Linked DNA regions of Homo sapiens. The protein of the gene in region 3 purifies or fractionates together with the protein of the main gene of each other region. This does not show direct contact. Each region holds a gene or a part of one and is shown on either strand. Other genes may lie near its edges.

Region 1 (3,500 bases), on a different chromosome or scaffold from region 3:
TTTGGGAGGCCGAGGTGGGCGGATCACCTGAGATTGGGAGTTCGAGACAAGCCTGACCAACATGGAGAAACCCCGTCTATACTAAAAATACAAAATTAGCCAGGCATGGTGGTGCCTGCTTGTAATCCCAGCTACTTGAGAGGCTGACGCAGGAGAATCGGTTGAACCCAAGAGGCAGAGGTTGCAATGAGCCGAGATCACGCCATTGTATTCCAGCCTGGGCAACAAGAGCGAAACTCTGTCTCAAAAAAAAAAAAGTCCTTTCTAATATCCTCTTACTGAGACAGCCCACGGTTTCCTGTGGTGTGCATTCTTCTCTCTGTACTGAGCAGTAAACCCAACTTGTTTAAATACAGATATGCCCCTCAGCTCTTTGGCTGGAGGGCATTAACAGAAGGAAAATAACATTTGTGGCTTCTGTGAGCCAGGTTTTTTCCCTTTTATACCTCATTTAATCATTACAGTGGCCCTGCAGGGTAGGTAACAGCATTAGCATCTTATGGAGGAAGAAAAGGGTTAGGGCATTTATTCAAGGTCAGCTACTTAGAAAGTGAATGCAAGAGCTGGGATATGGACCAGGGGTTTTCCTGGCTCAAGAGGAAAACCATTTCCACTGGGCTGGCTGCGTTCCACTTCTAAAGGATGAATTTAGCTCAGAGATCTTACAGTGACAGCCATGGCTCTTAGCTGAATAATGGCTTAAGATATTAAGAGTCCTTTTCCTCCCACCTTCTACCTGGAGGATTATTTTTGAAACAAATGACCTTTTTATTGGAAGGTTACAATAAACTTTTAGATCTGTAAAGAAACTGTTTTGTGACAGTGTTTTAGATATTTGCTCCTTGAGTGCTTTTCTTCACAAAGGAATCACATTTTGTGTTCTCCCACAGATTAGGGCCTATAGGAGAAGAACCCATTGTTGTCTGTCTTCCCACCTGGATCTCTTTGGTAGTCCTCCATGGCGGGTTACAAATCCCTTCAGGACGTCACCTTAACCTGCTGTTTGAGCTGGAATGTGTACCCCAAGCTCCAGCCACAAAGAATGACTTGCTGTTTGTTCAAAGCACCACATTCTTTTATTCTCCCATGCCTTTGCACATGTTCTCATTCAGGCTTGGAATACCTTCACCCCCCCAGTAAATATCAGCTCTCTCTTTGATACCCATTTCAAATGGTCTCCTCTGGGAGGCAGCTGTCTATCTTCACCCTCCCTCTCAGTGGTGCCTGTCTGCCTTTGTGTTCCTGGTACCCTAGCTGGGATCCACGTCTCTGTTGAGGTCTTCAACGTGGCATTTTGTAATTGTGTATTTGATGTAGTCTCATTTCTCCTCCTGCCCTAAGAGTTCCTTGATGGCAGGGGTTCTTATTTTTCATATTCTAGTTCCTTGCCTAAAGCCAGGCATGGAGTAAATGCTTAGTACATGTTTGTTGAATGAATAAATTAGGTAATTTACTTAAGATGACTGTTTTTCAAAAGACAGCCTCATGATCAGGACTGTCGATAAGGATGTGGCTGCCACCCTGAACCCCAGGGGTGCTATTCACCTTGCTTTGGGAGTGGTGCCCTGGAGTTGGGCAGTACACAGTCAGTACAGTCACAAGTAGTGGTCCTTCGTGAGGATAACCATACTTTAAAAAGTGTGACCCAGGGCTGGGCACGGTGGCTCACGCCTGTAATCCTAGCACTTTGGGAGGCCGAGGTGTGTGGATCACTTGAGGTCAGGAGTTTGAGACCAGCCTGACCAATATGGTGAAACCCCATCTCAACTAAAAATACAAAAATTATCCAGGAGTGGTGTTGCACACCTGTAATCCCAGCTACTCAGGAGGCTGAGGCACGAGAGTTGCTTCAACCAGGGAGGTGGAGGTTGCAGCGAGCCGAGATTGCGCCACTGCATTCTGGCTGGGCAAGAGGTGAGACTGTCTGAAAAACAAAGGCAAAAACACCAAAAAACAAATGTTATTAGTCTAGAATTCCTGCAGTGGTATGTTGATCAGAGCACCGTTTTTCATGTGGTAAGAGTCTCCTCTGCTGCAACTTGAATTTGTTTGTTTATCTGTGCAAGATGCTTACAAGTGAATGTAAAGATGCTTACTAGCAGTTTTCACATCCATGGCACAAATGGGTTTTTCTGAGCAGGCACTCACATTCTTAAGGGGTGATGAGGGAAGGGAATGCACAGACCAGGCTGCTCCTTGGCACATGCTGAAATGATGTTGCCATGTCTGTGGCAGAGACAGGACCTGCGCTATAGGGTAACTCTGAATGTCTTGTCCCCCAGAACCTGTGGACAAAGTGGCTGCCATGAGAGAGTTCCGGGTGTTGCACACTGCCCTGCACAGCAGCTCCTCTTACAGGGAGGCGGTGAGTGTGTGCTGCGGCCCCCAGCCAGGACTGTAGGAGAGGGTGTGAACGCTGGCTGGCGAGTGGTGTGGAGTGGGAGCTGGAAGCCCGTTGCCATGGCAACCAAGAGTTCCTTGGGGAGTTTTTGCCATGTCTGTGGGCCTCAGTAGAGCCCTGTCTTTCCCCAAAGAGCCTGTCTCAGTCAGGCGTTGTTGATTCCCTCTAATGATAATAATACAACCTGCCCGTATGGTGACAGCCAAAAGATCCTCATACTGTTTCTGCTGGGCCTCATTCTTCGACTTTGGCTGAACTGCCTGCTTACTGCCCCTTGACCTAGATGTCCTCACTGGGGAAGTGGGCTGATGTCTTTCTGTAGGAGAGTTGAGAGGCAAAATTAGTATAGCTGTGAACTTAGCGATATATACAAATATGAAATAGTAATTGTACAGAGATTGAAAAGGACTTTTGGATTGGAACCTAGAGAAACCTTTGTTACCGGGCTTGTAATGAGAGCTTTTATTTTGGAAGCACTAAACTGTAGGTGGGGAAAAGGAGCACAGAGATTTGAAGGTTTACTGTGGTCTTGCCTTTTTTTTTTTTAAATTGTTTGTTTCCCCTCCAGTAAGCTAAGATCTTAGAGCAAAAAGAGGTTCATCTGTTTCTGGGGCTATTGTTCCATTGTGGTGATGTACATGCAAGCACTTAGAGGGAGGAAGTCCTTTGGCAGAGTGTGGGCATTTGATGAGTACATTGAGCTGGTTGGAGTGCTCAGCCCCCGCCATTTCTCCTGCAGGTCTTTAAGATGCTCAGCAATAAGGAGTCTCTGGATCAGATCATTGTGGCCACCCCAGGCCTCAGCAGTGACCCTATTGCTCTTGGTAAGTGCAGGACTGAATTTGAGGAAATAGGAGTTGTCGGAAAAGGAGAAAACAGGAGAAGACAATTCCTCTAAAGAGACTTGGACTATCTTTTGAAGAATGACTGGTCTTGTGGGAAGAGGGAGAGTAATCAAGGTGTGTTTGATATCCCCAGCCCTTTAAGAGCTCTCAGTCCCACAGAGAGATAATGGCCTAACTAACATCGTAAATAAGGGTATGAGGATGCCAAATGAGGATAGCAGTTAGCCCACATCACAGCAATCAGGGAAGGCGTC
Region 2 (3,500 bases), on a different chromosome or scaffold from region 3:
TAAGTCATTATATGACAACTTACAGCAAAAGGAAAATGAAGGATCTAAAGCTGGAGAACTTAACGCCAGCAAAGGATGCTTCGATAATGTTAGAAAGAGGTGGCTTTAAAAATGTCAGGGTAACAGGAGAAGCAGCTTCTGCTCACCAAAGGGCAGCAGACAAGTTCCCAGATGCCATTAAGAAAATCACTGAGGAGAAATAATATCTGCCTGAACAGGTTTTTTGTGCAGATGAAAAACGTCCTGTTCTGGAAAAAAATGTCACAAAGGGCAATTATTAGTAAAGAAGAGAAGCAAACACCAGGATTTAATGCAGGAAAGGATAGGCTATCTTTACTGTTTTGTGCAAATGCAGTCAGGTTTATGATCAGGACTGCCGTTATCTATAAAGCTGCTAACCCCGATCCTTGAAGGGAAAAGGTAAACACCAGTGGCCTGTCTTCTGGATGTACAAGAAGGCTTGCACAAGGAGAGCTCTTTTTCTGGATTGATTCCATTGATGCTTTTTCCCTGAAGTCAGGAAGTATCTTGCCAGTAAGGAATGCCTTTTAAAGCTCTTTTGATGTTGAGCAATGTCCCAGCCACCCAAGAACCCCATGAGTTCAATACCGAAAGGCAACAAAGTGGTCTCCTTGCACCCACTCTCTAATTCAGCCTCCAGAACAGGTAGTCATAAAGACCTTTAAGGTTCATTACACACACTACTCTATGGAAAATAGTGTCAATGCTATGGAAGAGAACTCGATGGAAAGAACATCATAAAAGTCTGGAAGGACCATGCCATTGAAGACACTGTCATTATTATGGAAAAAGCTGTGAAAGCCTCATGCCTGCAGCTATAAATTCCTGCTGGAGAAAACCATGTCCAGAGGTTTTGCATGACAGTACAGGATTTACGACAGAGCCAAACAAGAAATCATGAAAGAGACTGTGGATATGGCCAAAAGTGAGGGGTGAAGGGTTTCAAGATATGGATCACGGAGAAATCAAGAGCTAACAGACACTATGCCAGAGGAATTAACAGAAGACGACTTGATGGAGGTGAGTGCTTCTGAAGCAGTGCCGGGTGATGAGGAAGATGATGTAGAAGCAGCAGTGTCAGAAAACAAGGTGACATTAGACAATTTGGCAGAAGGTTTCTGATTATTCAAGATGCTTTTGACGTCTTTTATGACATAGACCCTTTTATGACGTGGGCACTGAAACTAAAAACTGTGGAAGAGGATTGGTACCCTACAGAAACATTTTTAGAGAAGTGAAAGGGCAAAAAAGTCAGAAATTACAATGTATTTCTGTAAAGTTCCAGAGTATGCTTGCCTCTCCTGCCTCGCCTTCCACATCTTCCTCCTCTGCCACCCATGAGACAGCAAGATTAACCCCTCTTCCTCGTCTTCCTTAGCTTATTCACCATGAAGACCTTTATGATAACCCACTTCCACTTAATGAAGAGTAGATAGATTTTCTCTTCCTTATAATTTTCTTAATAACATTTTTTCTCTAGCTTACTTTATGAAAGAGTACAGTATATAATACATATAACATACAAAATATGTGTTTATCAACTGTTTGTTATTGGTATAGCTTCCAGCCAAAAGCAGGAGTAGTTAAGTTTTGGGAGAGTCAAGTCATACATACATGGATTTTCAACCATGTTAGGGGTTCAGCATCCCTAATCCCTGCAATATTCAAGGGTCAACAGTATACCTGTGCAATGAAATAGTACTTGCCAATAAAAAGGAACTACTGATACACCCAACAAAATGGAGAAATCCAAAATAACATGCTAATTAAGAGAAGTCATACACCAAAGCCTACATACTGTGTATTTCCATTTATATGAATTTCTAGAAAATGCAAAATAAGAGTGACAGAAACAAGAGCAATGGTTGTCCCAGAAAAGGGTGGGGGCAGGCAACTGACCATAAAGATGCACGAGGGAACTTTCAGGGTAAGAGAACTGTATGAGTGTCATGGGACTACAATATACATTTGCCAAAAACTCATTGAACGGGATACTTAAAACAATAGAATTTTATTGTATGTAAATTATGCCACAATAAACTTCTAAAACGTTGGTTTAACTAGTAAATTTTAGGTTAACACTTACAAATATACTTATAAATTTACCAGTAATAAACTTAATGACAGACTATATAATTTCATTGGCAAATCAGTTAGTTTTAGATTTCTAAATTCTTTTTTTTTTTGAGACAGAGTCTCACTGTCGCCCAGGCTGGTTTCGAATTCCTAACCTCAGGTGATCCACCCGCCTTAGCCTCCCAAAGTGCTGAAATTACAGGTGTGAGGCACCATGCCCAGCCGTTTTTTTTTTTTTTTTTTTTGAGATGGAGTCTCACTCTGTCGCCCAGGCTGGAATGCAGTGGTGCAATCTTGACTCACTGCAGTCTCCGCCTCCCAGGTTCAAGCAATTCTCCTGCCTCAGTCTCCCAAGTAACTGGGATAACAGGCATGTGCCACCACACCCAGCTAGTTTTTTTTTTTTTGTTGTTTTTTTTTTTTTTTTGAGACGGAGTCTCGCTCTGTCGCCCAGGCTGGAGTGCAGTGGCGGGATCTCGGCTCACTGCAAGCTCCGCCTCCCGGGTTCACGCCATTCTCCTGCCTCAGCCTCCCAAGTAGCTGGGACTACAGGCGCCCGCCACTACGCCCGGCTAATTTTTTGTATTTTTAGTAGAGACAGGGTTTCACCGTTTTAGCCGGGATGGTCTCGATCTCCTGACCTCGTGATCCGCCCGCCTCGGCCTCCCAAAGTGCTGGGATTACAGGTGTGAGCCACCGTGCCGGGCCATGGATTTCTAAATTCATGAAAGCTTTCAGGGCTACTCAGCCAGTCCATGACTTGATGATTTAACCGAAGATTTTTTTTTGACTTTATAATTGCGCCAAAGTGGTACACACTCGGAATGCTCTTCAGTTTTCAAAGAGAAGTATCCTATGATATCAAATGAAGTATCAAATGAACTTCTGACTTATGAGATCATTAATTTACAACAGGTTTATCTGGACGTAACCCCACCATACGGTGAGGAGCATCTGTATATGGATTTTAAATTAATTAATTTTTTATTTTTTGGATACAAGGTTTCACTCTGTCACCCAGGCTAGAGTGCAGTGGTGCCATCATGGTTCACTGTGGTCTTGACATCCTTGGTTCAAGCAATCCTCCCACCTGAGCCTCCTGAGCAGCTAGGGCTACAGGTGTGCACAATCACACCTAATTTTTATATTTTTTGTAGAGATGGAGATCCCTATGTTGCCCAGGCTGGTCTTGAACTTCAGGGCTCAAGCATTCCTTCCTCCCACCTTGGCCTCCCAAAGTGCTGGGATTATGGGCATGATCCACTGCGCCCAGACTATATGTGGTATTTTTATTTTTATTTTGTTAGAGTCTCACTCTGTCGCCCAGGGTTGAGTACAGTGGCACGATCGTGGTTCCCTGCAGCTTCAACCTTCTGGGCTCAGGTGATCCTCCCACTTCGGCC
Region 3 (3,500 bases):
TGAGATCAAGATATATAACATTTCCTACATCCAGTATGTTCTATTGTGCTGCTTCCTAGTAAATCATTTCTTTGCTCAAGATTTACTGTTTAGCCACATTTTGAGTTTGGCATCTTTGGAAACAAGTGAAAGAGTATAGGCTTCGATTTAAATCCCACCCTTGCCACTTAATTGAGTGATTTTGGGAAAGTTACTTAAGAATAGAAACCACCTCCTCATTTGTTAAATGGGGATAGAATTTAATTCAAAATGGTATTATAAAGATTTTTAAAAATATATGCCAAACAACCTGCACATAACAAGTGTCTGAAAATATTTAGTTCTTCTCAGCTCCCCATAGAGCTGAATATTTTTACATTCAGTTAAATTTATTTTTGCCCAAAACTACTAATAGGAAGAAAATAGATACCATCCATCAAAAATAATTTATAGGACTTACAGATTGAATCATGCGTAAAACTCATTCATGTAAGACCTTTTCATATCATTGTCTCTTTTTTTTTTTTTCTGAGACAGAGTCTCGTTCTGTCACCCAGGCTGGAGTGTAGTGGTGCAATCTCAGCTTACTGCAACCTCCACCTCCCTGGTTCAAGCAATTCTCGTGCCTCAGCCTCCCGAGTAGCTGGGACTACAGGCACAAACCACCACACCCAGCTAATTTTTTGTGTGTATTTTTAGTAGAGACGGGGATTCACCATGTTGGCCAGGCTGGTCTCGAACTCCTGGCCTCAAGTGATCTGCCTGCCTTGGCCTCCCAACGTGCTGGGATTACAGGCGTGTGCCACCACGCCCAGCTGATATCACTGTCTTGTATCACAACTTTTACTACTCTGGGAAAAGGGAAGCAGCTATAAGCAATGTGCTTTATGAGAAATTATTTCCAAAGGAAAAAGCATCTGTATTCAAGATATGGTGAGAACTATACCAATAACCCTAGAATTACAAAGGCACAAAAACAGATTTAAAAAAAAAAAACTAGACAAAGCAATGGAAAAAAAGAATAGCATCTTCTTAGAATCACTGCCTATAGTAGTTGCTATGATAAACCTTCTAAAAGAACACGTCATCATTTCAGCTTACATTTTTTTAGTAACCAGCATATTTAAGTATACTATTATAGCCATTCTCATATTTGTGGCCATAAAATATTAATAGCTTTATTCTGTTTCTTTAGATTGAGCCTAAGTAGAAAAGGAAAGTTTTATTACTAAATTGGTTCTCTTATGTACATTTCAGCTTAAGACCCTGTGTAACAAAAGAAGAAAATCAGATTTAGAAGCTTAAAGGTTTGTGTACTAGCATTAACTCTCTTATGAAAACCCCGAGAAACTAATTCTGCAAGACAAATGTCTGTGATACAATGTATTTCTTGGAGGTTTCTTTTATTTGGGGGACTGGGGGGGTAGGATTGAAAATATCTTAGGTACAAAATATATTAATAAACATGAACTTCTATCTAAAAATAGCAACTGATATGTACATATTTTAGAATTTTTTCTCTAAAGTTTTTTTAAAGCATACTATTAAAAATCTACTTGTTCCTCAAAAGTATAACTTTCAGATTAAGTTTTAAAATAATATTTTCAAAATTCGAAAAAACATACGTACCTCCAGGTACTGGTAAAATACTGAAAACAGTGGCCATGTCCTCCCAAGCAGAAGAGCTAACATAGATTTAGCAGTATCAATATCAAGGCTTCTCTGATCTTTATCCTAAAATATAAGTGAAAAAGTTTTCCTAAGTGTGGTCTCAAGATGAAAAGCTATTAAAACAACAAAACAAGAAAATTGCACCTACCCTTGCAAAATCAAAGGCATATCTGTAGATATTCTTAAATGACGAAATATCATTCAACTGTGAGCGCAAAAAGTCAAATTTGTTTTGTAACTTTTCTGTGCAGTCACACCTTAAATAAAAGAAATATCAAACAAATTACATAATCAAGAAAATCAAATAAAAGTATCACTGGGGGTTAGACGTAATGCATTAAGAAAAAAGTGAGCGCATTTATGAAGTTAATTTAGTTTTAAAATTCTGAGTCACAAATTTAGAGTAATAAATTTCTTGCCCTGCATCTACCAATGCAATAAAAAAAGAAAAAAGGGGAAAAAAGAAAACCTGGGAATCAAAGAAAGTTCACTCCAATTACTTTGCTTAAAAACAAACAAACAGCTCATTCAAAAATTCCAAATAAAATCGAAGTTAAAAAGAGATGTATTAAAACATGTTTTATCACATATACAGCTAAAAATGGCAGAGCAAATGAAACTAATCACGCCTTTGTCACACATTTCTTTAGAAAGTTCGTAGGTAACAGTTTGGTGAAAGACATTAGTCATGAGTAGTTTTAAAAGTTTAGGATATAACACAGTGCAAATTAATACATTAAGTGGTCCAGTCATAAATCAAGATCCCTATATTTTTGTGAACAAAAAGTCAAAGTCAATCAGTAGAAGCACCTAACTTCAAATAAGTTATATATGCAAAAGCATGCAAACAACAAGTCATACGTGTTATTTTTAAAGACAAGACATTAAATATAAGCAGCTAAATATATGGAAGGCTCAAAAATCTTAACTGACTTTGTCTCAGTGGGTTGATAAATTCCACTGTTTAGCAAGAAGCAAGGCAGTCAAGGCCTTTCACAATTTGGCACAAATCTCTAGTTTCATCTCCTGCCACTTCCTGATAACCTTACCATGCTCTAATTATATCACTTACCATTCCCAAATGCCACTGCCATACTTCAGCACCCATTATTTCCACTTGAAATCTCAAACATGCTGATAAAAATATTATTCATCAAGACCTAACTCACATTTTGCCACCTCTGAGAGACCATCTGACTCCCTTTAATCAAATTAATTGTGCCATCTACTGTGGTCCACAGTATTCCACTCAAAACTGAATTTTAGTTATTCAACATGCTCTCCAGCCACCTGGCATTCTCAGATTTAACTAAGACTATACTAAATCAATAATGCAAAGGCCTATAATGTGTAGTAACATAATTTCATTAATGTGTAAATATTTTGGACAATTTTCTAATATTAATTAAACCTTGCATTTCTAGAATAAGTCAAATTTGGTCATGTTATCTGTTTTATACATTGCTGGATTTTGGGGTTGTTTTGCTAGGTTCCTAAGTGAGACTAGCTTTTAAGTTTCATTCTTACTCTCCTTGCTAGTTTTTTTAACAAGATTGTAGTACATAAGACTCAGAAAATGAAAAGAGAATTGCTACTTTTCCCCCCCGTTTTTTGAAAAAGCTTATGTAACCCTGGAATTAGCATCTGTCCAAACTCAGGTGAGTATTGAGGGAAGGAAAACTTTTAACTAATAAACCAACATTTTTAATGGCCATAGGGCCATTCAGATTTTCTATTTCTTTTTGAATGTTTTGGTCCCATACTTTTCTCATAACTGATTATTTTACATATAAGTTTATTTAAATATGATTAAAATTTATAACATTTTCTAATTTGCATTAGCATTATCT

The links.
Region 1: the proteins of DCUN1D5 (region 3) and UBL7 fractionate together in Homo sapiens (co-fractionation; one large-scale study listed by BioGRID). This does not show direct contact.
Region 2: the proteins of DCUN1D5 (region 3) and PNO1 fractionate together in Homo sapiens (co-fractionation; one large-scale study listed by BioGRID). This does not show direct contact.

The regions. Positions count from the first base shown.
Region 1 is NC_000015.10:74,451,161-74,454,660, reverse strand, and holds part of UBL7 (ubiquitin-like protein 7), read left to right. Parts: intron 1-2,282; coding exon 2,283-2,365; intron 2,366-3,140; coding exon 3,141-3,225; intron 3,226-3,500.
Region 2 is NC_000002.12:68,164,388-68,167,887, reverse strand, and holds part of PNO1 (RNA-binding protein PNO1), read right to left. Parts: intron 2,951-3,500; coding exon of another isoform or gene 2,929-2,950; exon of another isoform or gene 2,014-2,928; intron 1-2,013. UniProt on the Homo sapiens protein: Part of the small subunit (SSU) processome, first precursor of the small eukaryotic ribosomal subunit.
Region 3 is NC_000011.10:103,064,661-103,068,160, forward strand, and holds part of DCUN1D5 (DCN1-like protein 5), read right to left. Parts: intron 1,908-3,500; coding exon 1,799-1,907; intron 1,714-1,798; coding exon 1,609-1,713; intron 1-1,608. UniProt on the Homo sapiens protein: Contributes to the neddylation of all cullins by transferring NEDD8 from N-terminally acetylated NEDD8-conjugating E2s enzyme to different cullin C-terminal domain-RBX complexes which is necessary for the activation of cullin-RING E3 ubiquitin ligases (CRLs).